Regions from separate parts of the Homo sapiens genome. Here region 1 is linked to region 2. The links come from fine-mapping of genetic effects on gene expression. A gene starts in region 2. The other region holds a variant in brackets. All regions are shown on one strand. Distances are between the middles of the regions. Region 1 overlaps KCNT1 (potassium sodium-activated channel subfamily T member 1). Region 2 holds the start of KCNT1 (potassium sodium-activated channel subfamily T member 1).

Evidence for each region. PIP is the estimated chance that this variant, and not a neighbour inherited with it, causes the effect.
Region 1: its variant is the best candidate, but not a certain one, in a credible set for the expression of KCNT1 in hippocampus (GTEx, PIP 0.61).

The regions. Positions count from the first base shown.
Region 1 is chr9:135,779,767-135,782,662 of GRCh38, reverse strand. The region is part of intron 24 of KCNT1 (potassium sodium-activated channel subfamily T member 1); the gene reads right to left. Among named protein-coding and RNA genes, the nearest start is that of KCNT1, 79 kb to the right of the region's middle. The variant C/T (reference allele first, on the strand shown) is at 1,857.
Region 2 is chr9:135,700,982-135,703,877 of GRCh38, reverse strand. It overlaps KCNT1 (potassium sodium-activated channel subfamily T member 1), which reads right to left and starts at 1,693. Exons shown (of 31, transcript NM_020822.3): 1 at 1,510-1,693. The coding sequence starts at 1,619. It also overlaps a transcript of SOHLH1 not described here. RefSeq lists a silencer at 1,765-1,894.

The sequences.
Region 1 (2,896 bases), 79 kb before region 2:
AGAAAAAGCTGGACGTTTCAGGACCTTCCAGAGATTTCCTCCTGCTTTCTGGACAGGAGGGCTTCAGCAGGGGCTGAGCGGGTGCCATTCACAAGTGACAGTGAAGACAGGAGCACACAGGAGCGGATGAGCCCTTCCTGAGCACGAGACCCCCGGTCAGAGGGAGCAGGACAGGCACCGTGCAGCCCCAGGATGGGCAGAGCCAGCCTGAAGGAAGGCTCCTGGTGAGGAGGAGAGATCACACAGGCTGACCATGTGAAAGCAATGAAGTGGTGGAGGAGTCCTGGGTGCTGGAGACCAGGGGAGGTGGACGGCAGGGGAGGTGGGCCTCAGGGGAGAGACTCCTCTCACACACCGGGGCTCTGAGAGCCTTCTGGAGCCAGCCCTCAAGGGGAGATGCATGTCACCCCACCAGCAGCATCCTTAATAATAGTTTCATTTTTTTGCTTGGTTTTTTTTGAGACAGGGTCTCGCTCTGTCGCCCAGCCTGGAGTGCAGTGGCACAATCTCGGCTCACTGCAACCTCTGCATCCCGGGTTCAAACAATTCTCCTGCCCTAGCCTCCCAAGTAGCTGGGGTTACAGCCACCACGCCCGGCTAATTTTTGTGTCTTTAGTAGAGAGGTTTCTCCATGTTGGCCAGCCTGGTCTCGAACTCCTGACCTCAGGTGATCCGTCCGCCTTAGCCTCCCAAAGTGCTGGGATTACAGGCATGAGCCACCGCCCCCAGCCATTAAATTTTTTGTATAGATGGGGACTTGCTATGTTGCCTGGGCTGGTCTCGAACTTCTGGCCTCAAGCGATCTTCCTGCTTCAGCCTCTAAAAGTGCTGGGATTACAGGCATGAGCCGCTGCACCTGGCAGAGCATCTCACTGACGGTCGTGTATGCCATCTCCACCTCCTCCCTTTTTCCTTCCGGAGTCGTGCCTGGAATCCTGTCTTTATCCTTCCACTGGGCCTGGATGTAGAAGATGTTGGCTGCAGGGATTTGGGGTAACTTTTCTTCAATTTTTTTTTTTTTTTACTTTCAGTATTCTTTGAAGTAAAATACATACTAAACATGTACATTTTTATAATAAATTGGCATTAATGTCTTTTAAATAAGGATCTGAAGCTGCCACAGGTGTCCTTGTTGGAAGCAGGTCACCGTATGCTGGCCCGTCAGAGAGACCCATGGGGGATCTGGGGCCAAGGCCACCCAGGCTGGAGAAGACGCAGCCCCTGGTGCCTTCTACAGGCTCCTTGCATGCTGGGGAGGCGGATCCCAGCCTCTGCAGAGGGTGATGGGTCAGGTGGTCCACGGCACCCTCTCCTCCCTCGGCTCCACGTCTCTGTATATGCCTGGCCCTGCCCAGGGCCCAGGGCATCTGTCCCACATGGACCCCAGCACCATGTCAGCCCAGAGGAGCTCACGGCTGCTTCCAGAGGCTTTGCCGATGTCCTGATTTCTCCTTGGTCCCTGTCACACAACTGCCACGGAATCGCATGACTGGAGCTGGAGCCCAGGACTGTTCACTGCTCTGAGATGGAGAGCTGGCCGCACCCGCCCCGGCAACACAGAGCCCCAGTGGAGGTGAAGCCGGGGAAAGAGATGGGCCCCACGGCGGGGCGGAGCGTGGGTGATTGGCGATGGCTGCCTGGCGGGAAGGCGGGCAGGAGCGTGTTGGCTGCGTGCTTGCTGACCCAAACTTCAAGCCACCTTGTGGGACAGAGAGGTGCAAGGCTGAGGCCGGAGGAGCCGCGCCAGGATGACTGCCTCGACCCCGACTCCACGGCAGCATCCCTGTCCACACAGGGTCAGACTTGGTCTTCCAGATCCGGAGAGTCCTCCCAGCCCTGGGGAGCGGCCCGGCACC[C/T]GAACACAGAATCCTGTGAACTTCCTCCCCTTCCGTGGTTCCAGCTGCAGAGCACACCCCTCTGCCGGCTGAGCCGGGGACTGGGGCCAGGAGCTCCCGACGCTGGGCAGGGCAGGCTCCAGGGTGGGCTTGGGCGGCGGGCAGGGCAGACAGAGCCCTCTCCTGTGCTGAGACCAGGTGCCCGAGCATCCCCCTACGCCTCAGGCTGGCATCTCTAAGGCAGAAGCCCCTGTTGACCTGGTGGCTGCCCAGCCCGGCCTCCTCTCGCTTCTCTGGGGCAGAACTGACTCCAGGATCCCTATGGGCTCTTGGTCCACGGCTGGCCGGAACACACTTTCACTCTCCATCGGGTTCAGGTGGGACAAAGCCATGTCCGTGTCGCAGGGAGTGCCCGTGTGTGTCCTCTGCCTGGTGTTGGTGGCCAGGCCGGGCCTGGCTCAGTAGATCCTCCACGGTGTCACAATCCTGCAGCCACGCAGGTCCCAGCAGCTCGCCGATGAGGACTTCAGCCCAGACCGGTGAGCTCGGGGTTCGTGTAGAGCAGACAGCATTGCTGCTGACCAAGGTGCCTGCTCCCTGCTCTCAGCCTAGGGCTGCCTGGGCACCAGCCCCCGTGTGGACAAGGTGGTGCTGTCCCAGCTTGAGCAGGTGGGGAATGCGGTGGGGCTGGGGTCAGCCAGATATCAAGGCAACAGCAACAGTGCCCGTGCCCCTGGGTTCCACACCTGACCCTGGGTGGTGCCCTTCATGGAGCTCCAAGGGCAGAAAGCCAATTCCAGCTCAGCCACTTGCTCCACTGTGCGATCCGGGGCAGGCCCCTTCCCTCTCAGGCCCTCCGTCCCTTGTCAATACAAGGAGGCAGTGGTTATACTGAACCTGTTTCAAGGTCGGGCGTAGTGGCCAGGGCAGCGGAGAAGTCTGGAATGGTGCAGCCGTGTGCGTTATCTGTACTAAGAGCTACTGGCCAACCTATGTGGAACCACCGATCTGAGGGCTCCCCACGGGAGTTCTGACCAACTGACCATGCCAGGACAGATGGC
Region 2 (2,896 bases):
CGGGCCGGTGGGCAGGGCCAATTGGGAGAGACAGGTGTCTGGAAGGACCCGGAGGATGAGGCCTGGAGCTAAAGGCTGGACCCTGAGGACACTGTCCTGCCGGCTCGTCTGGAGCAGGTCAGGCCCAGCAGGGTAGGTGATAAACTCCAGCAGAATGGCCAGGGAGGGCAACGCTAGGCTGGGGAGGGAGATGGTAGGGGCCGGCCAGCCCACAAAGATGAGGGCAATCCAGGACCCCCTTGGGGTCATTTTCTCTGTGCCTGACAGGCATCCCCCGGATAGTCCCTCAGAGCACGTCCAGGCTGTGCCCACTTCCCAAGGACATCACCAAGTCACTGTCCACCCTCAGAGCACCTGCTCCTCACACACGCTGTACCCCGGACTCCCCCGGGTGCCAGGTGGGTGCTGTGCCTGCCTCTTGATTCTGGGAACCTCCTCTCCAGCCTGGTCCCTCACCAGAGGCAGCCCTTAAAGACCATCCGCCCTACCTCCTCATTTTACACTCGGGGAAACTGAGTCCCATAGAACAAACAGGCAGCCGCACCAGGCCTCCCGCTCTCAGGTATGCTCTTCCACCCCCTTCTCTGGCCTCAGGACAGCCTGAGACTGGGCAGGATCCAGAAGAAAGGGCTCTGTCCTGGTGGGGAGGGGTTCGCCCAAGGCAGTGACCGGCTCTGCCCAGGGTTCCCTGGAGTCTGGCTCTGGGGACAGGGTGAGGGGCAGACTTGCCTGTTTTCAAGAGCTGAGGGATGGGGGAGAGGATGGGGAACCTGGACCCTGGGGCAACCTCCGCTCAGGACTGTCCCACTCAGCTGCCGGTCCGTGCCTCTGCACTGGTCACTGGGTGGACGGCAGACGCATGGCATCCCAGGACACTGCACAGGGAACAGCTAGCTCCAGGTCACCTGAATGCCATTCTCAACTGGCCCTCTCCTCCCAGGGATAGGCCAGCGGGGAACGAGGAGTGACCAGAACCCAGGACTCCCGCCCTCATCTGACAGCCACTTAGCCCACTTCCCACTGGGGACTCTTCCTTGGAAGGTTGCTCTGGAAACCCCCTACTGTGTGGGGTAACCTCGCCGGGCACCCCACCCTGGCCGAGCACTGCCATGCCACACAAGAAGGATGGAACCTTCCTCCCCAAGCTGGGGTGGGGCAGGGGCTGGGGGAGATGGAAGGCCCTGCACCGCCCCCAGCCTCCCTGCCACTCCCCACACCTGGGAGATGCTCAGGACCCCCATGTAGCCACGGCCGCTCCCCCCAGCTTCTTACCAGGTCGAGGACAGATGGGGACGGACGCTGCTGCCTCGGCACCTGCTGATTAGTGCGGCCCACCCTGAGGGGCGCCCCTGTTCCCCAAGGTGGTTGGGAGGGCACTCGCGGGTCCTGGGGAAGTTGGATGGCCCTGGGAATGGCGGGTCCTGGAGGGTGCGGGAGCCTGAGGGGGAACTTGGGGGTCTTAGGTTAGACCGGGGCCTCCCCGCGTGGGGAGGGCGCAGCAGACTGTACCTGGGGGCGCATTGGCCGTCGTCAAACTCGAAGGTCCGGTTGGTGTAGCCCCCGCCGCGCGCCTCCCGGCAGACGCCCCCCGGGGTCCGCGCCCCGTCAGGGAGTGGCATGCGGCCTGGCAGCTCGGACCCGACCCGAGGGAGAAGCGAGTGGGAGCCGCCACCTTCTTCCCTCGCGTTGCCCTGAAAAACATTTTTTTTTTCCTCGCAGATTAGCGAGGAAAAGACGCCAGTTCCAGGGTCGGGTGCAGGCGTCTGTCCGCGCGCGCCCCCTGCCGGCCGCGCCGGGACCCGCGGCGGCTCTGGCCCAGGCTGGGACGGGGGTGCGGGGTAGGGAGGGCGATCCGCTCCCGCCGCGGCCCTCTGAGCCCTCAAAACTCCGAAAAACAGGACGGGGTTCGTCAATGGCTAGAAAAGCCCAAGCGCGCCGCCACCGGGCCCTACACCCCTGGGAGGGCTCCGTGGTGGGCGGGGGCTCAGGGGGCTCTGGGTCCTTGGCGGGCAGCAGGGCACATGCGCTGCTCGGACCGCCAGCGTCCAGCCGCTGCGCCCAGGGACCGTCAGCACCTCCCGCTTGTGCTGCTCTGCCGTGGTCAACACTGGTCATTGAACACAAGCCAGATTCAAGACGACTCCCCGCCCCCCCGCCCCCACACCCCCCGCAGGCTGCGGCATCTGTGGGTGGGCGCCACATCCTGGGCTTGGCCTGGGGGAGGGGGATGACTGCACCCCGCCCTGTGCTCTCACCCAGACGGGCACACACAGCACCTTTAGACGGGTGGGGAGGGGCCCCAACTTAAGATGCTGCAGGCCAAAGACTAGGAAGCAGAGGGTCCCCCTGCGGGCCCCCTTTCCCGTGCACGTGCTCACACTGTTACACATGCGTCACCCTGGCTCAGCCTCACACAGAGCTCTGGAGAACTGCGATTTCTGTCCCCAGAGCTTTGTTGGTTTGCAGGGTGGACCAGGCCCCTCACTAAGCCAGGACTGTGCCCACGAGGGCCAGGGGGAGGGCCAGGTCCATTTGGAGGGCGCATGCCATGTACTTTGTGGTCCCTGGCCTCCCCAGTGTCTCTCCAGAGGGTCCTTCCCTGTTTCTCCAGGAGGCAGCAGGCTGAACACAGATGCTTTTGAGGGGTGGGTGGGGAACACTCGGGGAAGTCTAGGATGCTAAGTCCCCAGCAGAGGTTCAGCCTGTGCCCCCGCCACACAGCTCGTGGGCATCTTGGGGGTTTTTCCTCAGGTCCCTAGATTGGCCGGTGCTGCTGCCGGGGTCCCACCACCCCTGGGCGGGTGCCGCCGGGGCAAGATGGTGGCCTTTCTGCCAACGCCCTCCTGCCTGGGGAACTCAGAAAAAACTGAGAGGCCGCACCATCTGCATCTGTGAT